3 separate regions of the Homo sapiens genome follow, and all the other regions are linked to region 3. The links come from fine-mapping of genetic effects on gene expression. A gene starts in region 3. Each other region holds a variant in brackets. All regions are shown on one strand. Distances are from middle to middle.

Region 1 (7,960 bases), 41 kb before region 3:
AGGCCTGAGGTGCCATCTAGGGGCATTGTCCAATGACAGGGGACAGCTCAGAGGTGGGGGGATGTTCTGTATGCACTCCCTGCCTGCTGAGCTCAGGAGCCTGGGGGCCAGGCAGTTGGAGAAGCAGACAAGCAAATCAACAGCAGAAATAGAAATGACACTGACAGCTACCACCTGGCACCTGCCTTAGAAAATGCATTGAGCACAAAGGAAACAGACGTGCAGGCGGCCAGGCGACATTGACACTGCGTGGAGTAGGGGACAGGGATTCAAAGCCCAGGCTCCGGTGGGCGCGTCCCAGGCACCTGCTGCCGCGCTTCCCAGAGAGTGAAATTCGCCACTGTGGGGTGGGGGCATCTTAAGGGTTGTAGAAACCAAGGAGCTCAAAGGAAGGAGCCAGGGGTCGCCTTGTCCAGAAGGGATTTGGGGGTGCAGCAAAGATGCCGCAGAACATCAGAACATGTATTTAAAAGTAGAGGTGAAAGACCAAGGGAACGGGGAGAGAAGGTAGGTCTAAGTGGAGGCAGAGATAGGCCCACGGCTTTGGCTCCAAGCTTCCCAGTGGCAGAGGCAAAAAGGGAAAGGGGCAGTTTACACAAATTACTATTCTATGGGTACAATTAAAAGGCACCACATCCTACTCCTGATGCTTCCCTTCCATGGCGGACTGGGGATGGCACAGGAAAAGAGCGTGTGGAATTCCTTCCCATCCTGTACATGTTCGGAGCATTGCACTCTCCCGGGCTCTGGGGCTTCCAGGTGAAACAGCCCCTACCTGCCAGGCCCTCAGCCCGTACCTGTGACAGCCCCCTGCTTCGTCCTCACAACAGCCTGGGCACTTGAGGTTGGGGTCTCAGCTGTCACTCTTCCAACCCTATAAATGAGGAGGTGGAAGGAAAGAAGCCAGCACTTCATGAGGACATGGTGGTCTGTCTGCCCATGATGCAGACGCCGGCTTTGTGCAGGGACCCCATTCCTCAGCCCCACATGTGTGCACCTCTTTGGCCGGACCTGTCCTCCCATCCAGGTGCCTCCCAGATGAGGGGCCTGTGCTGAGGGACTTGGTTTTGTGTCTAGTGGCTGCTCCTAGCACCCTCACCTCTGTCCTCACCCAACCACTGGCCAGCTGGGCTCCTGCCTCCCTGCAGGTAGGGCAGGTGCGGAGGGAGCACAGCCCTGAGCATCCAGTCTTTTCAGTCTGGCCAACCCCCAACCCAGTGGCTCTGAAGGTGCCTGGAGAACCAACAGCTCAGGACCCCGCTGGGCAGACCAGGCCTCTCACGTGGCTGTAAGAGAAAGTTCCTCCACCCCACCCTACCCCTCGATGTCTCCTGCCCCTTCCACCCTGGGCAGATGATGGCTCCATACAGGCCAAGCCTGGATGCAGGTGGATCCAGGCCAAGGACACGGGGGTCCCCTGGAGTGAGCACAGATGGTGGCATTCGTTTGACCTGCTGTGGCCTCTAGAGCCCCGAGCCACGTGGGCCAGAAGGTGCAAGAGTGTTCAGGGGAGACCAGGGAAGCCTTGGGGCTTCTCCAGTTACCCCAAAACATAGACACTGACAACAGCCACTTTCTTATGCTCCATGGGTCATAGTGGGAGTGCCTGGTTTCTGTTCCCCCCAGTGGGGGCCTCAGCTAGAGGGAGCTCCAGGGCTGGGCCAGAATCAAGGTTTCCTCACTTGGTATCATCTGAGCTCCACCAGCCAGCACCCCTGGAGAGCCAGGCAGATGCAGGGGCTTTCCCAGCCCAGCCCAGTGCTCACATGGCACCTCCACCACCCACTCACGGGGTGGTCACAGGCCCAGTTGACCCAGGGGAGAAGCATTAGCACCACCCTGGATGGGGCATGGTGTGGCTCTAGGAGACGCCTTGGATGGGAGATCCAGCCCTTCCACAGCATCCTCCACTCCTGTATCAGGAAATCCGCCCTTTGCCCTGGCAGCTTTGCCTGTCCCTCACTGGAACATGCTCCAGCCACCAGGCTTGCATCTTCAGAGCCCCGCTGCCGCTTTTCTCTATGCCTTCCCAGCCCCTCACTGCACCTGCTCCAGCTGGCCCAGAGGCCGACCCTGTGGGCACGTTTGCCAGCTCCCTGTGCTGGGACCTGTCCGTGGCCTCTGCCGGCGCGAGGCACTGGCAGGAGGCCTAAGGGTCCCTGCCACCAGTGGCTGCAGCTACCTCCCCGTTTGGCCACCAGCCCCAGAGAACGGCTCCTTCCCTCCTAGCTTTTCCTGAGCTGGGCCCACGCCTTTGTCCTGTTTTTAAACGCTCCTCAAGTGGCCCAAATTAAGGGGCCACACTATCTGCTTCCCCCAGGGAGCCAAGAGGGCTGCCAGCTGTCACTCGTGGGACTCCGGCCAAGGGGCCCCTTAAGACTTCCATGGAGAAGAGCTGCTTTGAGACGGTCACTGCCCTCGTGCTGGCTCAGTGGGGACAGGGCTGCAGGGTCTAACTCCAGAAAGACTCGGCCCCAGCAGGGGAGCTGGCGCCAACCAGACAGCTGAATCAACAGCCACCGCCATGGGTCCAGGCCCCCTGCAGCCTGGCGGCCCCACACGCAGGACTGGGGGCTGCTCAAGGCCAAGGGTGGGGCTGTACTCCTCAGTGGTGACGGCAGCAGCCCCCTACCCCCTTGCCCACCCTGGCTCCTGTGTCCCACAGTGAGGTCTCTCCGGTGCACAGCCTGGGTGAGGGGTTGGTGGGTCCAGATGGCACATTCAGACCCTACATCCCCAGCCTAGCAGAGCAGGGGGCGTCAAAGGGGAAGGAGCAGTGGGGGGAGGAACGAGGGGTGGGGGTGTGCTTTGGAAGCCTTGAGAGTTGCCCTGAAGGCTTGAACCGCCCCCAGGGCCAGCAGGAGAGCCATTACCATAACCAGGCAGGGTCCCCTTTTAAGAAAACTGCCCTGGTGGGCTGGTTGCGGTGGCTCACGCCTGTAATCCCAGCACTTTGGGAGGCTGAAGCAGGCAGATCACGAGGTCAGGAGTTCGAGACCAGCCTGACCAGCATGGTGAAACCCCATCTCTACTAAAAGTACAAATAATTAGCCGGGCATGGTGGCGCGTGCTTGTAGTCTCAGCTACTCAGGAGGCTGAGGCAGGAGAATTGCTTGAACCCGGCAGGCGGAGGTTGCAGTGAGCCGAGATCGTGCCACCGCACTTCGGCCTGGGCGAGTGAGACTCCGTCTCAAAAAAAAAAAAAAGAAAAGAAAAAGAAAACTGCCCTGGTGGCCACTGATGGAGAAATGGAGGGACAGAGGCCAGGGAGGGAGACTCTCGCTGGGGCATGGAGGGCTTCCGGGCAACAGTGCAGCCCAAACAGAGTGGGCCTTGGCCAGAGGTGGACAAAGCCAGATGCTGAGGGTGGGGTGGGCACAG[C/T]GAGAGGCAGCCACACTAGCTGCTCCCGCTGGGCCAGGCCTGGTGGATGGTGTCATCCTCCCTCACATTCCTGGATCTCAGGGACACCACTTCCCCAGGCTCAAGCAGCTGAGTCATGAGTGTCCTCCCTTCAGGGGACCCAGCCATTGGCTTGGGTAGATTAGTTCTGATTTAACCCCAAAATAATGACTTAGTGGCTTTCCTAACTGCAGCCAGCTTTGCAGGGCCTCCGAGCTTTCAGGCCACCTCCCCTCCCAGATGCCCTTGAGCTGGACCTGAGAAGACCCGCCCAGAGGAAGGCGAGGAAGACTCCACAGGGGTGACAGGGGCCCAGACACCCCCTATCTGCATCAGGACCCATGTGAGCAGAGCTCACCCTGTTGTCGCCCTGGGCACTGTGGCCATCTGCCAAGGGACAGATAGATGGACCTTCCTAGTCCTCAGGCCTCAGGCCATCCACAGGGTAAACCCACATCCACCCACATCTCCTGGAGCCTCCCCCGCCTGGGAATGGGAGCGAATGACCCCATCACACTGGTCTGATGGATGAGTGAGCAGCACCCAGGAGGCCGGACGCGGGAGGCTTGGCCTGGCCGGCAGGGAGTGGGCGCCCTGGGCTGGGACCGGGTTTCCTGCTCCCCTCTGTCTAGGCTTTTCCTGGGGGACCTGGCCTTGGAGGCCAGCGCCTGAGGGCCCCGCAAGACAGTCAGTCTTGCTGTCACTCCCAATGCCATCTTGTGTCCCCTCTCCCCAGACCCCTCTGCTCTGGGAGACTGGTGAGTGAACACCTCGTGAGGTGCATCCTGTGTGGGCAGGATTCCGACCAAGTGCTCCGACGTGGAAGGAAAGAATGCACACTCAGGCAATCTGGGTGTGACCACCTTGCTGTCCTGCGATCTAGGGGATGAGAGGAGGTGACAAGGCCCAAGGGGGTCATGCCGCAGACATGCCCAGGCCCGGCCTGTGTGGTCAGCTGAGGGTCCTTTAGCTGCCCGTCTACTGTCCTCAGGTAGGATGCCTCGTGCTGGGAGCCAGGCCGCCCAGCACCCTTCCAGCCTCTGCTGACTCCAGCTGTGTGTCGTCGGGCATCTTACTCAACCTCTCTGTTTCTTGTCCTTCTGCGCCTAGGGTCATGATAGACCTTGCTTCCCAGCAAGCATGGAAGAGGCTGCGAAGAACAGCTGGTGCCCAGGAAACTGGGAAGCCCTGGCTAGGTCTCAGTGCTGTGGCTGCTGGTGTTCACACCATGGGCCAATGCTAGGGATTCACAGAGGCAGGGGATGGGGTCCCTGCTCCAGGGTTCTCCCAGTCTGAGGGGCAGACATGTGACTGATGTCAACTCTCCTGGGTGGCCTGGGGTGAGAGAGAGTGACTCATCCCTGGGTGCCTTGGGGACGGTGGCCCTAGGAGGGGACTCCCCTGGCCCTGAAGAGTTGTGTGGCATCCCAGGTAGAGGGGCTGGAGGGGTAAAGCCCACCGCCATGCTCCGAGCACGCTGAGGGCTTGGTGTGAGAGTGTGGTGGATGTGGGTTGGGTGGGCTGCGAGGCCTCCAGCCTCCCACCTGCCTGCCTTTATTGATTTCCAGGGATTCAGGACCTCAGACGCTGGGCCGGTGACAGGCCCCTGGGATTCTGGTCGCAGTCCAAAGGGTCTCTGGCCACCCTGGGCCTGATCAAGTCCTCCCTCTATCTGGATCTATTTCTCCGTCACCAAAAGTTGGCACTTGGGTTTAGTGGCTGACAGCCCTTCTGATTCTAACAGGAAGTGGCTCTGCAGGGTTCCGTCACGCACGCGCTGTGCTGGGGGTCCAGGAGAGGGCTCTAGGAGTCGGACGGTTGGTGGGGGAGGATGGAGTCTGGCTGCAGAGCCCAAGCATGTTTTGTGGGGGCCCGGCGGGTGAAGGGTGTCACAGCGATGGAGGTGCAAGGTGATAGATGAGAGAGGCAGTCCCAGCACAGGAACCCAAGCAGGCAGCACCTGCATGGCATGGCTCTCCCGCCCTCCATTCGCGGGGCGGCCTCCCATCCTCCATTCTGATGGTGACATTGAAAATGAAACGCCAGGACCCCAGCACCTGCATGGTGTGGCCCTTCCGTCCTCCATTCTTTTTTCTTTTACTTTTTTCTTTTTTTTTTTTTTTTTGAGACAGAGTCTTGCCCTGTCGCACAGGTTGGAGTGCAGTGGTGTGATCTCAGCTCACTGCAACCTCCGCCTCCCGAGTTCAAGCGATTCTTCTGCCTCATTCTCCCAAGTAGCTGAGACTACAGGCACCTGCCACCATGCTTGGCTAATTTTTGTGTTTTTAGGAGAGACGGGGTTTCACCATGTTGGCCAGGCTGGCCTCGAACTCCTGACCTCAGGTGATCCGCCTGCCTCGGCCTCCCAAAATGCTGGGATTACAGGCATGAGCCACCACGCCCGGCCTCCATCCACCCTTCTGATGGTGACATTGGAAATGCCAGGACCCCAGGGGTTCAGGTGGCCAACCCAGCTTCCAATCCACCCGTGTAGCCCCATGTGCCATGCCTTGGGTAGGTTGCCAGGGTTCTGAGCCTCTCCCTCCTTGTGTGAAAGCCCCTCTCCTGGATCTGGGCAGAGGGTGTGCACAGCCTCTGGAAGTGGCCTGGCGGGCGTGGGGGCTCAGTGAGCACAGGGCCTGGGCTTGCAGGTGAAGCCCGAGGAGGTGGTATGGCTCCACCTGGCTGCCCTGGGGACCCAAGGTGCGGGCATGGGCACTGGCCCTCTGCCCCAGGAGAACGGCTGCCGGCCTTGACATCTTGGCGCCTCCCCCGCTCCCTCAGCCCTGTCCCCTGCACCTAGGGCCCTGTAGGGGCATCCCAAACTGGCACCTTATTCCCGTGAACTGGGCCCTTCTCTTCAGTTTCCCTCAGTTAGGAAGCCAGGTCCCGTCTTTCTTTCTTTCTTTTTTTTTTTTTTTTTTTGAGACAGTCCAGCTCTGTCGGCCAGGCTGGAGTGCAGTGGCATGATCTCAGCTCACTGCAACCTCCATCTCCTGGGCTCAAGCAATTCTCCTGCCTCAGCCTCCTGAGTAGCTGGGATTACAGGTGTGTGCCACCATGCCCAGCTAAGTTTTGTATTTTTAGTAGAGACAAGGTTTCACCACGTTGGCCAGGCTGGTCAAGAACTCCTGACCTCAGGTAATCCGCCCGCCTCGGCCTCCCAAAGTGCTGGGATTACAGGCGTGAGCCACTGTGCCCGGCCACCAGGTCCCATTTTAGTGACCACCCCCACACCCCGAAGAATAATAAGCCTCGACCTTCCCCACCCACTCCTCCCCTCCTAGAGCCTGAAGCCCCAGGTGGCTGTTGACTGGAGGGGAGGGGAGCACTTTCCACTGGAATATCTGACTTCAAACCTCTCCGGCCCCAGCTTCCTGCAGGCTCTGCCCCCTGAAACTGACAACCCAGCTGTGAAGCGGCAAACATGATCATCCCTCTCTTGTGTGTGGGAGGGGTGAAGATTCAATGAAATATCACAAGTGACACTCTCACCCAGGGCTCCCAGAGAGGGTGGCCCCAGCCCTACGACACCCATGGCCCCAGGGGAGCTCATGACTTTGAGGGTGTCGGTGACCCTGGGGGTGCCCTGGCTCTGGACTGGGCCACCATGTGTCACTGCAGCCACCAGGGGGCAGCAGAGGGGAGCTGTTCTGCTTTCAGGAGCTGGTGCCTGTGCTTCCTGCAAGGAGGGGGGACAAGAAGGCCCCCGGGGTCACTCGAGGCCAGCAGAGGAGTCCAGACTCCGATCCCAGCTCCACTGCTGCCTCCCGCACGCCTGGAGCCAGCCCGGCCCTCATCTGTGCACGCAGGGTGTGCTGCACCCCACCAGGCATCTCCAACTCGGAGATTCAGCTGCAGCCCTGGCCGTCAGACCCACGGGCCCTGAAGTCCAGGGGGCCCTCTCGCCCGCCTCCTGTCTGCAGATGGGGAAATTGAGGCCCAGCCAGGGCAGGGGATTTGCCGACGTTTCGCAACAAATTCGAGTCAGAAATAGGCCCAGCTGGGCCTGCCGGCGCGGAGGCCCGCTCGGGACACTGCTGGCCAACGCAGGGCCCAGCACGGTCCCAGTCACACCCACAGCAGGGTCCTGCCAGCCTTCTCCGCTCTCCCCTGGGGGAAGTGACCCTCCTCCACCTCCCAGAGCCCACGTGAGTCCGCAGGAGGCCCCCCTGGGCCAGGTGCCAGGTGCCGAGTGGCTGCCTCCAACTCGGGGGCTGCTATGCAAGGATGTTTCCAGTTCTCCGGGTCCTTCCTTCCACCTGGGAGGTCCGGGGCTGCCGGGCCATGCTGGTCCCTGTGGCCCTAGGGCCCGCCCAGCGCAGGGCCTGGCAGGGAGAGGGGGAAACGTGGGTGAGGGAAGTGAGTCACCCCTTGGGACACTTCCCTGCTCAGTTCCTGCCTCTCAGCAGCTTCTGCGAGGCAGGTCACACCTGCAGGGGAGCCTGGCAGCGCTAGGAGAGGCAAGGGGTGGGGGTGCCGCCTTTTCATGGGGCCAAGAGGGGCCCTGAGAGGGACACCGGGTGGACAGCCCCAGGGGCCTCCTTGCTCGGCCAGCCGG
Region 2 (7,960 bases), 19 kb before region 3:
AATGCTCTCTTTCTTCTCACAGGTGGTCAGTTCTGAGATATATTTCATGAGATCCCCCAGAAACCCCCGTCAGGAGCAGGTATGAGCCTCCTGCAGCTGTGACTGACTCAGTGAAACGTCCTTGTATTGGTTTTCCCAGGAATCTCATTTCCAGCTGAAATGTCTGCAGACAAGTCTTTGTCTCAAGCTTTGCTTCCAAGGAAACCAGACTATGGTACGCGCCATTGTGGAAAGACAGAGTACAAAAAAATGAACTCACAAATTTAAATTAACTATAATAAGTGTTATGGAGAAATAATACAGGGTGATGTAATGGGAGTATAACTGTGAATCTGTGCCATCTAATATGGTAGCCACTAGCCACGTGTTAGTATTTAAATATAAATGCAGGCTGGGCGCGGGGCAGTGGCTCACACCTGTAATCCCAACAGTTTGGGAGGCCAAGGTAGGTGAATCATTTGAGGTCAGGAGTTCAAGACCAGCCTGGCCAACATGGTGAAACCCCATCTCTACTAAAAATAAAAAAATTAGCTGGGTGGTGGTGACGCGCACCTGTAATCCCAGCCACTTGGGAGGTTGAGGCAGGAGAATCACTTGAGCCTGGGAGGCGGAGGTTGCGGTGAGCCAAGATCACACCACTGCACTCCAGTCTGGGCAACAGAGTGAGACCCTGTCTCAAAAATAAATAAATATAAATGCAAATTAATTAAAATTAAATGAAATTTAAAATTCAGCTCCTGGGTCACACGAGCCACATTTCAAGTATTTAACAGTCCCATGCATTTAGTAGCTGTCTCACTAGAAAGTCCAGATATGGAACATTTCAAGCACACAGAAATGTCTGTTGGACAGTACTGCTCTGATTTAGCCAATGCCTGCTGCTTTGTACTAGATTGTAAGCACAGAATAACAGAGTCGATATCTGTCTAATTTTACTTTCTGTCTCTAGAAAGTAGCACAGACACCAGCACAGAAGCAGACAGTAATCAAGTTTACAGAAAGAAGGCAGGAAGGGAGAGAGAGAGAGACAGGAGAGATGAAGAAGGAGGAGAAGAAAGGAGGAAGGGAAGGAAGGAGGAAAAGGAGGGGAAGGGAAGGGAAGAGAAGGGAAGGGAAGGGAAGAAAGGAAGGAAGAAAAGGAGGGAGAGAGGGAGGGAATAAGGCAGAAAGGAAGCCCCCAGCCCATCCACATGGAGCAGTTTGCAGTTTGGGACCTCAGGCCTGGCGAACAGAAGTACAGAGCACAGGTCAAAACAGCCTGGGTGTGGAGGGAGGGAGACTCCAGGATGCTAGCGTTTACTAAGCACTTACTATGTGCCCGGCACCGTCCTAATTCCTAATTCCCTGCAGTTTCCACATTACACCCTACGATTGTTATCCGATTTCACACAGAAGGAAACTGAGGCTGGAGAGGTGAAACAGCTTGTCTAGGCACACGGGACCATGAGTAGCAAGCCAGGGTCAAGCCAGGCAGGCGGCTCCAGGGCTGGTTCCTTCCCCTCGCACCACTGAGGTCAAAGGTGGGAGGATGCCGTGAAACAGAGGCCGAGTGTCCACACTCCCTTCCTTCTCTCCTGGGCCCGGAAACCTCTAAGACTTTGCCAATACCCTCTGGTCAGCCCCCACCAGCCCTGGCAGCTGCCCACTGAGCCAGCCCCTCTGCCCAAGGCCCCTCCCTGGGGCGATGGCAGCCAAGGGGGCAAGTCACATGGCTGCCAGCTGGAGCCCAGGCGGCCGATCCACACAGGAGCCCTGTCCGTGATGTCAGCACCACCAAAGCATCCTCATTAACCGCCCCCTGGGTGACGCAGCCCAGCTTTTCTGCGTGGGATGGGTGGGGGACTCACTGAGACCCAGGTGTTCGCAAGAAGCCAGGATGGAAAGTATGACTCGCTCCTTCCCAAACATGGGATGGCTTTTCCATTGCTAATATCCGAGGAATCCGGTGAAGTAGTGGAAAGACCGAGAAGGCGGGAGACTGGTTCTCACCCTGGCCCATCCTGGCTTTAGACCAGAAGCCCAGAGCCTCAGTCTCCCCTTCTGTCCACCAGAAACCACAGCCCTGTCCAGCTCCGACTCTCCAAGGTGCCCAGGTGTCAGTGAGGCTGACAACACAGCAGTCACCTCGGGGCTGCAGCCTTTTAAGCTTTTGTTTGTTTTCCAAGCATGTCTTTGGGAGTGAAGATCCATCAATCATGACATAAATTTCATTTCAGAAGTTATATTTTACTAGTAGGAGTACAAAGGACTCAAGAATTCAGAACTGGATCTCCCTCCCAGACACCCTCAGGATGTCCCAGCCTTGCCTCTGGAACAGCCAGACTTCCAGCAAAATGAGGACCCGGAAGCTGTGCTGCGGCCACCAGTACTGACTGTGCTTCAGGCTTGCTTGCTCCTCACCCACCCTGGGAGGTTGGTACTGCTGTTATTTCCATTTTACAGCGATTTACCTCCCTGCCAAAATTAGACCAACTCTTCACCATCACTTCCTCTAGGAAGCCATCCCTGACTCCCAAGTCTGAGCCAATTCCCTTCCCAGGTGTCCTCCAGACCCTAGAGTGCACTATGCAGTGTGTCCTGCCACATCAAGGCTTCCTCTCCTCTCCTGGTTTTGCCCACTCTGAGAGCAGCAGACCTGGCAGGTAGGGCCCAGCCGCCACTCAGCCAGCCCCTGATAGGTGCACCCCATATTCCTCCTGCCCTGATGTTAGGGGGCCATGGTGAGGACCTGATGCCATGCAGCTCACAGGCCTCCAGCTTTTGGGGCCAGAATCAACCTGCCCATCTCTTGTGCAACCAGCTTCTCCTTAAAGGCACTCAAATCTTGGGACTGAGAAATTAGTGGCCTCCCAACCTGCGACTCCTCAGGAGTTCAAGGCAGGCTTTTTTTTTTTTTTTTTTTTCTTTTAACTCAACTCACCCTCTTCCCCCGTTTCATTTTCCCACCCTGACATTTCCTTTAGCTGGACCAACTTCTATATTTTATTTTAATGTTGGTGTTTCTAGTCCTGCTGGCTACCCATGAGGCAGAATGTCTGTAAATGCAAAGAAATAGGACAATTTGCCCAAGGAAAGGATTTCTTTAAAGTGAATTCTGAGTGTCCTTCCTCTTTCAGAATGTTCCTTCTCCCTAAGTGCTCCCTCCTCTGGAATGCTCCCTCTCCCTGGAGTGCTCCCTCTCCCTGCAGTGCACCCTGTACCCTCTTGCTCCCTCTGCCTGGAGTGTTCTCTCTCCCTGAGTGCTCCCTCTCTCTGAGTGCTCCGTCTCCCTGAGTGCTCAC[T/G]CTCCCTTGGGTGCTCCCTCTCCCTGAGTGCTCCCTCTCCCTGCAGTGCACCCTGAACCCTCTTGCTCCCTCTCCCTGGTGTGTTCTCTCTCTCTGCGTGCTCCTGCTCCCTGAGTGCACCCTCTCCCTGTAGTGCTCCCTCTCCCTGCAGTGCGCCCTGCACCCTCTTGCTCCCTCTCCCTGGAGTGTTCTCGCTGAGTGCTCCCTCTCCCTGAGTGCTCCCTCTCCCTTGGGTGCTCCCTCTCCCTGAGTGCTCCCTCTCCCTGCAGTGCACGCTGCACCCTCTTGCTCCCTCTCCCTGGATTGTTCTCTCTCTCTGAGTGCTCCTGCTCCCTGAGTGCACCTTCTCCCCATAGTGCTCCCTCTCCCTGCAGTGCACCCTGCACCCTCTTGCTCTCTCTCCCTGGAGTGTTCTCTCTCTCTGAGTGCTCCTGCTTCCTGAGTGCACCCTCTCCCTGCAGTGCTCCTTCTGCCTGGAATGCTCCCTCTGCCTGGAATGCTCCCTCTGCCTGCAACTTTCTGCCCAAAGTGCTCTCCACTCTCTTCTCCTGTTGAGAAGCTGCTCATACTCCTTGAGGCTCAGCTCAGGCGACCGCCTCCCAGGAAGGCTTCCTGGACTCCTCCATCGCCTCCTCTGTTCTCCCATGCACCATGCCCACCCCCTCATGCTTCCTTTCTCACCACATTCACCATCTGTGTCCTTATCTTCCCTCCTCACCTCTCCTGCCTCTAGCCAGGCTCTGAGCTCCCAAATGGCAGACCAGGGTCTCATGCCTTTGGGGAGGCAGGGGTCTGTCCCAGTGCCTAGCCCAAAGGAGGCCTCCGTGAGTCGGCTGCTGAAAGCCAATAATCCCAGGCACCCTGGCTGGGAAGGATCCAGCCCTGTACACCATCCCCATCCTTGAAAGAGTGATCTTATTCATGTATATCTGGAGAAGCTGGAAGGATGCTTAGAGAGCGTCTCTACAACCTCCTCTTTTAGCTCTGGTGAAACTGAGGCCCAGACAGGGAGCATCTTGCCCAAGATCGCCTTCTCTGAACCTCTTCCTCCTGTCCTGAGCCCTTGCCATGACAGAGCTGAGCTCCCCAGCACCTTGGCAGAAATGAACCTGTGTGCACGCTCCCCACCCACACAGGTGTGCGTGTGCGCAGGGACCCTCACAGCCACTGCCTCTGCAAGATGGGCAGGCAGTGCTCACAGACCCCTAATCAGGTGAGGATACCGAGTCTCTGGAGGACAAGTGATGGGTCGCCAGTCAGCTGCGGGGCGGGGACATCAGACTCTGGGTTGTGGCTCTGTCACCTATCACAAATGTGCCCAATCCAAATTTACAGAAGTTGCTGGAATCACCTGGTCAGGCACATGTACATAAAAATCAGCTGCAGCTGCCTACCTGGCACGTGTGCTTTTTCTGTCTTGTCTGTTTAAACCATGTCTGAGCAGGTGGGGAGGGGTGCCGCAGGACACACATGTGGGCCTGGCGCCTTTCTGGGCTCAGTTGAGCACATTGTAGTTTAGCAGCTCTTGGTGAGGTCCCTGTCCTTTCTCTTTGCACATCCACTTACGGCCCCGGAAGACCCTGTTGACAAGCTGTTGTCCCTGTGACCGGGAAACCCAGTGGCAGGGACTGTGGCACAGCACAGAACAGTACCATGCAGTTTTTAAAAGGGACATTGGTAAGAGGTTGATGACAAATGTTATTTTCCAGGAAAAAGTCAAGACGCTGAATTGAAAGTTCACCCTGGGCTGTGAGGAAGAATTTGCCCCAAGGGGAGAGAGGAGGCGAGGGAGTTCCTCTCCACGCAGCAGAGCTCTCCCTGGGTTGGGACAGTCATTGGGGGCAGCCTTTATTTCCTTACTGATCATTTACAGGATCTTTAAAAATCAACCTAATAAAAGAAAAATAAGAAGGGCAGGAAGGAGGGAGAAGCAGTCACCTCCAAGGGCCTAAGATCTTTTGGACCTGGTCGCAAAGGGACTCTCTCTCCAGGAGGGTCGCCAGGGCCGCAGGGTCCGGGACCAGGCCCAGGGTCCAGCTAAGCCCGGGCCAACACGGGGACACATGCGCACACCCGGACACACCCGCACGCACCCGCACACGCACGCGCCCGTGGGCCGCGCCCCGCCGCGCCGGGGGCCCGCATTGACATTCTGCGCAGTTCCCAGCCCGCGGCGCCGCGTGGGGACAGTGGCGCATTGTTCCCCGGACACGCCGGGCGGCGCAGCGCCCTCGGGGCTTGGCGCGGCCCCGCCGCGATTTGCATGCGCTCCAGTCACAAAGGTTCAAGGTCAGGAGCGCCGGGCGGGGCTGGTCTTCGCCCCGGCGGCGGGAATTCCTCGCCGCCCGCGCCCGGGACGCCCCTGCGCGTGAATGGCCGAGCGCCGCCACCGTCTGAGGTGCTTTGTGTCTCGCCCCGGCCAGCTGGGCCCGCGAGGGACGTGCCAGCTCGGCCGGCGGCGTCCCCGCGCCAGCGCCCCTCGCCCATGCTAATCAGCCTGGCAGCGCGTCTGGGCGGGCGGCCCGGCCCGGCCTGGGAGCCCCTCACGTTCCCTGCCGGGAGCCCCCTCCTACCAGGCCCCCTCCCCCAGCTTCCCCTGCCGCCAGGAGACCCCACTTACTCTGCCAGGAGCTCCCCACGACCCTAGCTGCCAGGTGCCTCCACCCGATTCCACCTCCACTCCTCCTGCCAGAAGACCCCCTCTCCGGCTGCCGTGGGTGCCTTCTGCCCAGCCAGAAGGGCGGGTGCACCTTGCAGGAATGGCTGGCTGGGGAGCCTGGGGCGTAGGACCCTTCTGGGACTCTGACAGGACTCTCTGTGGGGCCTGGGGCATCTTCTCTCAGCCTCGATTTCCCCTGAACAATGAGGCAGGTTGCCCTTCATGATCTCCAGAGGCACTTCCAGAGCTGGGGTCTCCCAGCAGGTGCAGGGAAGGTAGTGGTAAAGATGGCATTCCCCCAGCTCCCGCCTGCTCTGCCATTATCCAGCCTGCTGGCCTGGGGACAGTCACCCTGAGCCCTGAGTCTGGGTCACCGTCTCCAGAGATGCCTTGAGGACTAACGGAGCTGAGCATTCCACGTTGGGACCAGCCCTCAGAGTGTTCTGCCCTTATCATCATCCTTCCCACAGTGTAGCCCTGCTCAGGCAATATTATCATCCACCCGCTAGACTGGGAGCTTCGAGTAGGCAAGGACTTCTGAATTCCCACAGCACAGTGGCACCCAGGACGCACTGAATGACCTCACAGTTGGATAGGTGAAGGCCCACCAGTGTGGGTCACTCTGCACGATGGTGGATGGGGACAGGTCACCGCATTTGGCATTTCCAGTACTTGGAAAGAGGCTCAGAGCCTTTCTTGGGAGGTGGGAGCAGGCTTCTCCTGGGAGCTCCCCACTGGGTGTGTGGGCTCCATTGTCCAACAGGAACGTCCCCACCCCCAAGCCTCTGGGGAAGTGAGCAAGTTGTCTTTCTGCAGAAAGGTGTGTGCAGGAACACAGTGCCTGGCCAGGATGCCCATCAGGAGGTCTAGAGACTGGAACTGCAGACCTGGGGCCTCCGGCATGAGGTTGCCAAGGACCCACAACTTCCTGTAGCACTTTCCTCCTGGCACGTGTGAAGTCAGCGGCCCCACCTGATACCAGAGACAGCCCCCAGTGTTGGGGGCATCATGCTCGAGGGTGCGTTTCCCCCAGAGCACAAGAACCTGGGCCCCATAGACAAGCAGCCCCAGCCAGTCTCAGGCCCAAGAAAGAGGGACCAGGTGAGGCGGTGAAATGGGCACCAAAGGAGAGAAGCCAGCCTCAGACAGACCCTCAGACAGCAGAAAATCTAGCCTGGGGGTTCGAGGCCTTTCCCCAGCCCTCTCTCATTTCCCTCCAAACCTTAAATATGAAGTAGACATAATTACATGTACCTCGCTGCTCTAAGAATCACTTAGGGCCAGACGCAGTAGATCTTGCCTGTAATCCCAGCGCTTTGGGAGACTGAGGTGGGCGGATCACTTGAGCTCAGGACTTCCAGACCAGCCTGGGCAACATTAGTGTGATACCTTGTCTCCACAAAATAATAATAATAATAATAATAAGGCCGGGTGCAGTGGCTCATGCCTGTAATCCCAGAACTTTGGGAGGCCAAGACGGGAAGATCACTTGCGGTCAGGATTTTGAGACCAGCCTGGCCATCATGGTGAAACCCCATCTCTACTAAAAACACAAAATTAGCCCAGCGTGGTGGCACACGCCTATAGTCCCAGCTACTGAGGAGGCTGAGGAGGGAGGATTGCTTGGGCCCCAAGAGGTCAAGGCTGCAGTGAGCCATGATCACACCACTGCACTCAGCCTGAACAAGACCCTGTCTCAAAATACAGAATCACTTAGAAGCCTGGATGTTACCCTCCCTACACTGTGTTGCTAGCATCAGTTTCCTATGCGTCCCTAACCCCGTCCCTGCTTAGCTGGCTGGATACCACCCCCAGCTGTTTTCCAGCCACCCCAGCTTTGTCTTGCACATGGTGCTCTCCTGCCCGTGGAATGCCCTCTCAGCCTGCCACTTGCCAATGAGCTCATCCTGCAAGGCTTGGTTCAGATACCACCTCCTCCAGGAAGATGCCCTTGATCCTTTCCTCCTCTCTTTTCCCACCTGCCTAGGTTTTTGATGCCATGATAAGGAATTCGGCTGCA
Region 3 (7,960 bases):
CTATGCCCACTGGGCACTGCAGAACTTCTGGTGCGTGTGGCTAAGGGGAGTCGGGAAGAGCCCTGTCCCTGGACCAGACCTTCCTGTTGGGAGTACTGGGACCCAGTGACCTTGTGCACCTTTCCTGAAGCTTCTGGGCCCCAAGTGGTCGAATGCAGAGTGGGCTGGGGAGTCACAGACTGTGCTTCCTGCTTTCAACCTCCGTTCCAGGTTCCTGTGCGTTCCGTGGGCCCATCCACCTGGCTGGGCTTGGCTAGGCTGTGACCTTCTCTGAGGACAGGGCTCTGCCTGCATTTGGAGCTGCTGGGACCTCAGTGTCACCCCCCACTCTCGCCAGCTGGCCTCACAAAGGTGCCCAGGAGGAGACCTGATTGCCGACTCCTTTCCCCTCCCTGGCTGAGCAGATTCTACAACAGCCTGTGGAAATTAAAATAAGAGCTTAAAACTGTCAAAAAAATTTTTTTTAACCAAGTCACAAATGGGAAAGCTGAGGCGGCAGCAGGTTAAGGACACTTTGTGATGTAGCGTTCTCTCCCAGTGCTTTCGTACTGTAAACATCACAGTCCACGGTCCCTGTGAACAGGCAGCCACAGAGACTGGGTTTAGACTTGCCGGGGAAGGCTGCATCCAAAGTGGGGCCAGCTCAGAACTATTCCACCACATGGGGGGCCATTAGTTCTGCTCAGTTCTGTGGGGCCTCACTAGTGTTTCTATTTAAAAATAAGTCAAGGTAAAAGAAAAAGTTTCAAAATGTAACAGTCACGTATCTATTTCTGTAATTGTAAAGAAATACACTGTCATGTGACGGCTGGAGGCTCTGGAGCAGAGGGCCTAGGAGGAATTTTTTTTCTTTTTCTTTTTCTTTCCTGAATTCTCCAAACCGTCTATCACAGTGTGTATTGCTTTTATAACGGGAAGAGATAAAATAGACTTACATTAAAAATAATCAAACTGCACCTGTGCCTACATGTCAAATGATAAACGTGACAATCAAAGGCACTTTTTATTTATCGAATACCTGGTTCATGCCACATCTCCTGCTAGGCCCTCCCAGCGTGCTGGCTCCTCAGAACACCCTGCAGGTGGGAGCTGGGCACCAGGGTCCCTGAGGCAGCATTCAGCACCCACGTGGCAGAGCCAAGGCTGGACAGGGATGATTCCAACATCCAGGATTGTATTATGCTTATAACGACTTCCTGCCTGTTTGTATTTAAGACAAGGTCTCTCACTGCAGCTTTGACCTCCCGGGCTTGAGCAGTCTTCCCACCTCAGCCTCTGGAGTAGCTGGGAGTTACAGGTGCACACCCCCATGCTTGGCTAATTTTTGTATATTTTGCATAGACAGGGTTTCGCCGTGTTGCCCAGGCTGGTCTGGAATTCCTGGGCTCGTGCGATCCACCAGCCTCGGCCTCCCAAAGTGCTGGGATTACAGGCGTGAGCCACAACGCCCAGCCCCTGTCTCTTAAAGGTGAACATTTTCCCTAAATACAATGATCTTCAGTTAAAATATTTGTATCTTACATAGAATCTGGAATTATTTCTGTAAACAGAATTTAGTAAAAGAAATATAAAAATCAGCTGGGCACGTTGGCTCACGCCTGTAATCCCAGCACTTTGGGAGGCCGAGGTGGGCGGATCACAAGTTCAGGAGATCGAGACCACCACCCTGGCCAACATGGTGAAATCCCGTCTCTACTAAAAATACAAAAATTAGCTGGGCATGATGGTGCGCACCTGTAGTCCCAGCTACTCAGGAGGCTGAGGCAGGAGAATCGCTTGAACTCGGGAGGCGGAGGTTGCAGTGAGCCAAGATCGCACCACTGCGCCACTGCACTCCACCCTGGTGACAGAGCAAGACTGTGTCTCAAAAAAAAAAAAAAAAAAAAAAAGGAAAAAGAAAGAAAGAAAAAAAGAAATATAAAAATCATAGATTTTTACCTTATTTTACCTTATGACACTGTTGACCAACAGCCAAAGTCAGAATCAATTATGTAACTCTCAGAGCCTAGAACAAAATGAAAATATGGGTTCCCTTGTTCAAGAATGACTAAGAATTTTAAGACCGGGGACAGCCAAACATTGAGTGTGGGGCCCTTCTGCACACCGGCCCTCTACCACTGGGCAAGCCACACAGCCACAAAGTCAGCCCTGGACAAGTTATTGATAGTGTATGATAGAACTAAGGTGACGGTTCCCTTTGGGACACACTCTAATCACCAGTGACCACCAGTCAGAAAACAAATGGGCTCAAGCCGCAGGAAGATGAGCCGTTCCCAAGGCATTTTCCAATCCAAAAAATAGCGGTCGCAGCTCAGGAATGAAGTTCCCAGTGAGGATGCAGCGGGAGACACAGCCAGCCTTCCCTCCCCAGGAAAGGGCCAGGCCCTGCATAGGAGCTTTCATTAAAAACCAGGGAGGCTGCAGATTCTCTTGAAATGACAACACGCTCGTGCCACACCTCGATAGAGCTTCAGTCACTCTGCTGTGGAGCGTGCGAGGCTGACCATCCTAGGCCTTGGGGAGAAATCATGACAGCTGATGCCAGTGCTTGTTACTGGGAAAACACAGTAAGAAACTTCATCCCTAAATGTTTATACCTACTATGTACTCACAAAAATTTAAAAAAAGATTTAGTATGAAAATGTAAAGTATCTCATTAATCTTTATCTTGATCGTATGTTGAACTGATAATATTTTGGATATATTGGTTTAAATAAAATATATTAACTAAAAAAAAAAAAAAGGAAAACTTCATCCCGCCGCCTCTGAGAAAGGATCTTGGGGTTCATTGGCAGGTAAATGCTCCCCCAAAGGAGGTCCACTGTGGATGCTGGAAACGAACTGTCAGCTGACAAGCATCTGTAGCTCTGAAAACAAGGGCTCCACACATTGTCCCAGCCAGCGCCCCACCAGCCCATCCCCATTACCTCTATGTCTTCAGCCCCACGTCAGGTTCTGGAAGTTTCCAGGGGGAGTGGACAGTACCCTCAGGGGCTCTTGGGGCTGAGACCTCTTCCATGAATCACGTATGGAAGCCCAGGACCAACCTCAGAGAGGATCATGTCTGAGAAGTCGTTTGAGGGGAAAAATATCCACTTAAGAGAGAGGTTCTCCAGCCCTTTGGAGCATCACACACGTTTGTGGGACAAAAGACAAATATTCCTCCCACCCCAATCCCCAACCAGGCTCCTTGTTCATTTTTCTTTAAAAAACAACAACAAAAAAAAAATCCGCATTCTCCCCAGCCTGAAATAGTGCTCTGGAGGAGCTGGCCTGGCCCGGAGTGTCTTCTCCGTAAACACACCTGGTGAGGAAGAACAGGAAGGACGGACAAAGGGAGGCCTCAGGCCCAGCTGGCAGCCAGATCTGTGCCTCCCAGCGCCTCCAGGGCCCTTGCAGTCTCGAGAGATGTGGCTTGGCCACTTTTGCAGATTCCCAGGCCTGGGGCCACTCAGTTGCCTCCCCCAGCCCAGGTGTCTCCTCGGGACCCTTGCCTGGGAGGGTTTGAAGCCAGGCAGGGAAAAGAGGGCAGAAAATGGTGGTGCCGGGGAGCTGGGCCGGGCCAGCAAATCATTCCGCAAGGTGGAGAACTGCAGGCTGAGGGCACCGTGGGCCTGGGCCCGGGACCCAGCATGGAACCCCTTCTCCTGGAGCACCAGGGGTCACAACAGTCCCTCCACTCCAGGGATCACGGGTGACCCACGGCCGGGTGCTTTGGGGACGAGACAAAGACAGCGTGTTCCTCAAGCCCCTGCCTACCGCTCCGTCACTGGGGCCATGGTCTGCGTGCCAACAACCTTTTAGGAAGCATCTTGTGCCCAACCTCACCACCCCGCAAAAAAACCTGTGTCCAAAACACTTGGCAGTGGGGCTTAAAACGCTCAGGTGCCCCGAGGAGGCGCCGGGAGATGAGCCCAGAGCGGTGGCTGGCGAAGGCCCCAGCAGGACTGGGGCGTGGAACTTGCTTGTTTACCTAAGAGAAAAACACGACGAAAAAAGCTTCTGGGTAGAATTGGAAGTTCTGGGGCTCTCGGCGCCGCGGCCTCCGCGCGGTTCTCTTCCTCCCCTCCCCGGCCTGCTTTTCCTCCTTCTTTCCCTCTTTGTTGCCAACCTCGGAGCCGCGACTGAAACCCAGCCCAGCGTGTCCGCGAAGCCCGGAAACTTCCAGCTCCGCGACTGTGCAGAAAGTTGGGGGGCGCGGCCGGGGTGACAGCAGCGCTTCGGGGGCGGCCGCGGCGGCCACCCGGACCTCGGCCTCCCGCGCCTCCCGCTGCCCCAGCCGCGCCCGGGGACCTCGGGCAGCCCGCGGGCCGGACGTGAACTTGACCCTGCGCTGTGCCCGCCTGGACCGCGGCGCGCTCGGGACGATCTGGTAAGCGCTCCCCCTCCCGCCCTCGCCCGGCGGCGCTGGGGTCCGGGTCGGGGTCCGGGCTCGACTGCGAGGGCGTGTCCCGGGGTGGCGGGCGCCGGGGCTCCTCGGCCGCTGCACCGGAGCGCACGGCCGAGCCCGCGGCCCGGCCCCCGGCGAAGTCAGCCCCCAGCCTCCCAAACAAAGACTCGCAAAGTTCGGAAGAGAATCTTTCCCGACATTTTCCCTCCCCTCGGGCTCTGCGCTGCGGCCATCAGGGCTCTTAAAAGAGAACCGAGAGCTCTCTGGTTTTCTCCTGGTGTTTTCTTCCCTGCGCTTTGCCCCCCACCTTTGGCTGGAGGGAAGGAGGAGGGGGCATGGATGCCCCTCGGGCCCTCAGGTGTTGACCCTCCGAGGCCAGGCTGCCCAGGGGCAGCACAGGAGGTGAGGGCCTGTGGGATGAGGGACCCCCGACAGCACAAGGAGGCAAGCCCCTCGCCGCTGCAATGCTCCGGTCCTGGGGCTCAGGTGGAAGTTGCTCCTGATCCCCCCACACCCCCAGCACCATCCTGAGTGACTTCCCTTGACCGTCCTGGGTGACCATCCTGAGCAAGACTCCCTGGCCACCAACTGTCCTGTCGGCTCTGCTTGGGGCAACCACAGTGCCAAGTGAGCCTGGCAGGTGCTGGGTCACAGGACAGCCATGGACAGGGCCTGGGGAGGAGGAGAAGCTGGGGCCCTGTAGAGCCTGTTCCTTGGGGAGCAGGTGAGGGACCCTGCTGCCTCCCCTATTCCTGTCTGCAACAGGCCCAGCCCATACCTCCAGCTAGCTTCTCTGCATGCCACTCTCTCCGCCTGAGACAAGGCCTCTGTCCCTGTGACTGGTCTGATCCCTGGGGGGCACTCCTGGGATAGAAACCTACCCCACCAGTCGGCGGTGGCAAAGCCCTGGAAACTCACAGACCTGTCCTGGGCCTGGGCCTCCACAAGCCTCCCAGTTTGATCAGGTGCCCCCAACCACAGCAGGGACCATCTGTCAGGTCTTACTCCCAGTGGTGGCCAGGTCCCCAGCCTTCCAGAGAGCATTGCTAACTTGCCTCCATCCCTGGGTGCCTACGCTCCCAAAGTCCTCCTCAGGGGAGCACCCAAGCCGAGAGGGCTGGCCAGCCAGAATCTGAGTGGGTCACCCCACCATGTCCCTGGACTCTCTGGCAGGGCTGTCACAGGGCAGCCTACAGGCGTCAGTTGGAGCACAGAGGGTGTTTGCAGTGACGGCAGGGGACAGAGTGCCCAGTTGGCTCTAGCCTGTTGCTGCCATGAGGATAAGGGCTGAGGCTGTTAGAGCTTCTGACTTCAGAAGAAATCCAGATTTGTACATGAAATGTCCAAAATTTGAGCACATTGCAGGACAGAGGAAACACTCTGGGGTTGAACCCAACCCATGCCCCCACCCCGAGACTGCAACTCCTGTGTACGCCTGAACTGGTTAGTGTTCAAAGAAAGCAGATTTCTTAGTGACCCTGGCCCCAGCCCAAGATTTGAGCAGGAGACCCCGGGGATCTGGGGAGCAGGGAGGCAGGAGAGTCTGTATCTCATGGACCCAGCACCACAGGGAGGGTCGGCCTCCACAGGCATGAACTGTCCAGGTAATTAACACTTGCTCGAGCCCACTTAAAGTTAAAATCTCCCTAAAATGAGGAACCTGACCTGCCCCATCCCCAAACCCTCTGGGGGACCTTCTATACCCGCCCAGGGTATAATGAAGGAAAGATAGGATGCAGAAAGTGAACCTGAACTTGAACTTTCTTCATGTCCCAGGCAGTAGAGTCGCAGCATACCAAAAATCCTGGGCTTATAGGGAAGTTCTGCATTGAGGCAGGCCTGCCTCCACCTGCCAGCGCTACCTCATTCTAGCTGGGTAACCTCACCTCTCTGGGCCTCAGTTTCCTCACTCATAAAAGGGGCTTAATAAGAGTTCTGCCAGACAGGTGTGGTAGCTCACACCTGTAATCCCAGCACTTTGCGAGGCCGAGGCAGACAGATCATGAGGTCAGGAGTTCCAGACCAGCCTGGCCAACACGATGAAACCCTGTCTCTACTAAAAATACAAAAATTAGCTAGGTGTGGTGGCACACAGCTGTAGTCCCAGCTACTCAGGAGGCTGAGGCAGGAGAATTGCTTGAACCCGGGAGGCGGAGGTTGCAGTAAGCCGAGATTGCGCCACTGCACTCCAGCCTGGGTGACAGAGCGAGACTCTGTCTCAAAAAAACAAACAAACAAACAAACAAACAAAACAAACAAAAAGAGTTCTGTATCAGTTGCGTTGTTGGGAGAACGGTGACAATCGCTGTGAACATCGATCACTCCGCTAGCACACGGCAGGCACTCAGTATCAGCGGCTGCTGCTCCAGGGGCCCGTGGCTGCTGGCTTCTCTCGCACATCACCTGCTTCTGGGCAGCTCAGGAATTTCTCTCCTACATCTCATGTCAACTTTGCATCGCTTACCTCACCACCTTCTGGCACTTGTTTCCGTACCCTAAAGGAAACAGTCACTGAACACCTCCCCCACACCTATACTCCTGTATGGAGTACTGGGCACAGAGAGAAAAGACGACAAGGTCCTGCCTTAGAAGCTGCCAGATACCCTGTGCAGTGACACCCTCAGGTGAGCTTCTCTAGGCTAATGCCAGAGAAGGTGTTTCCTGTGCAGCCTTTGTTGAATGCCTCCAGAGACAGGCAGCTCACCACCTATCTGGCAGTGTGGCTGCAGAAGCCGTAGGACAGAGTCACCCAGGCATCCTTGAGCCTTAACTGGTAGAAAGAGATGTAGGACAGGTCCATAGGCAGTGCCCCTGAGTCAGAGGCACCTGGTTTTACTGGAGAAAACACATACCTCATAAGAAACTTCTGAAAATTTGGTGAGGTGTACAGAAAGATTTCAGTCTCCAGAAAAAGCACTGCAAATGCTCACGCATGTTTTTACAGAACAGAGCCCTGTTTCCTCTTTTTGCCAACAGCCCATTTAGCAATGCCAGGGCTGTGCCAGTGACCCCACCCACCTCCTAACAAGGCAGCCACTGTCCCGGGGGACAGCCAATATATGCTTTGATTTTTTGAGGTTAATGTCCTTGGGCCCCTGATTTTGGAAACCCTGGACAAAATATAAGGAGTCACTGCATGGGAAATAAACCTACCCCAGAAAGCTGGCTGCGGCATTCAGGAAACTGGAGAGAAAAGTCAAGGTGTCCGGAGGCCCAGGGTTCCTCGCCAGGATCGGCTATAGAGTTTGCAGGGCCCAGGGTAAGAAGAAAATGTGGCCCCCTGGTTTGAAAATGCCTGAGAATTACAAGGTGGTGACGATGGTGTGAATTAAAACGAGCTTGGGGCCCTTCCGAATGCAGGGCCTTCCTAAGCTCAGGGCCCTGTGCGGTGGTATGGGTCACAAACCCACAAAGCCAGCCCTGCCCCTCACACGTGTTCGTGCCGCATGCTGAGGCCCAGGGAGGGACCAAAGGCAGCTTCAGTGAAGGAGTACAACTCCTCGTCTTTGCCATTCTTTTTTTTTTTCTTTAATGCCATCATTGATGTTCCATGCTCATTTTAGAACACTT

Alleles and levels. Positions count from the first base shown, and alleles are read on the strand shown. Sizes are in standard deviations (SD) of each study's normalised expression.
For the expression in cerebellar hemisphere of the gene that starts at base 4,233 in region 3, allele C in region 1 goes with a higher level than allele T (large effect, 0.77 SD a copy in GTEx).
With allele T in place of G in region 2, the expression in visceral fat of the gene that starts at base 4,233 in region 3 is lower (small effect, 0.21 SD a copy in GTEx).

Evidence for each region. PIP is the estimated chance that this variant, and not a neighbour inherited with it, causes the effect. A credible set is the group of variants that fine-mapping cannot tell apart.
Region 1: its variant is the best candidate, but not a certain one, in a credible set for the expression of LINC00899 in cerebellar hemisphere (GTEx, PIP 0.76).
Region 2: its variant is the best candidate, but not a certain one, in a credible set for the expression of LINC00899 in visceral fat (GTEx, PIP 0.80).

The regions. Positions count from the first base shown.
Region 1 is chr22:45,999,487-46,007,446 of GRCh38, forward strand. It overlaps the pseudogene LOC730668. Among named protein-coding and RNA genes, the nearest start is that of WNT7B, 26 kb to the left of the region's middle. RefSeq lists enhancers at 1,548-1,717, 6,791-7,782. The variant C/T (reference allele first, on the strand shown) is at 3,382.
Region 2 is chr22:46,021,984-46,029,943 of GRCh38, forward strand. No RefSeq gene overlaps it. Among named protein-coding and RNA genes, the nearest start is that of LINC00899, 19 kb to the right of the region's middle. RefSeq lists an enhancer at 6,777-7,330. The variant T/G (reference allele first, on the strand shown) is at 3,282.
Region 3 is chr22:46,040,636-46,048,595 of GRCh38, forward strand. It overlaps LINC00899 (long intergenic non-protein coding RNA 899), which reads right to left and starts at 4,233. Exons shown (of 4, transcript NR_027036.1): 1 at 3,974-4,233; 2 at 2,928-3,064; 3 at 1,939-2,005; 4 at 1-417. LOC124905135 (collagen alpha-1(III) chain-like) reads left to right here and starts at 4,009. Exons shown (of 2, transcript XM_047441696.1): 1 at 4,009-4,372. PRR34 (PRR34 long non-coding RNA) reads right to left here. Exons shown (of 2, transcript NR_165243.1): 2 at 7,896-7,960.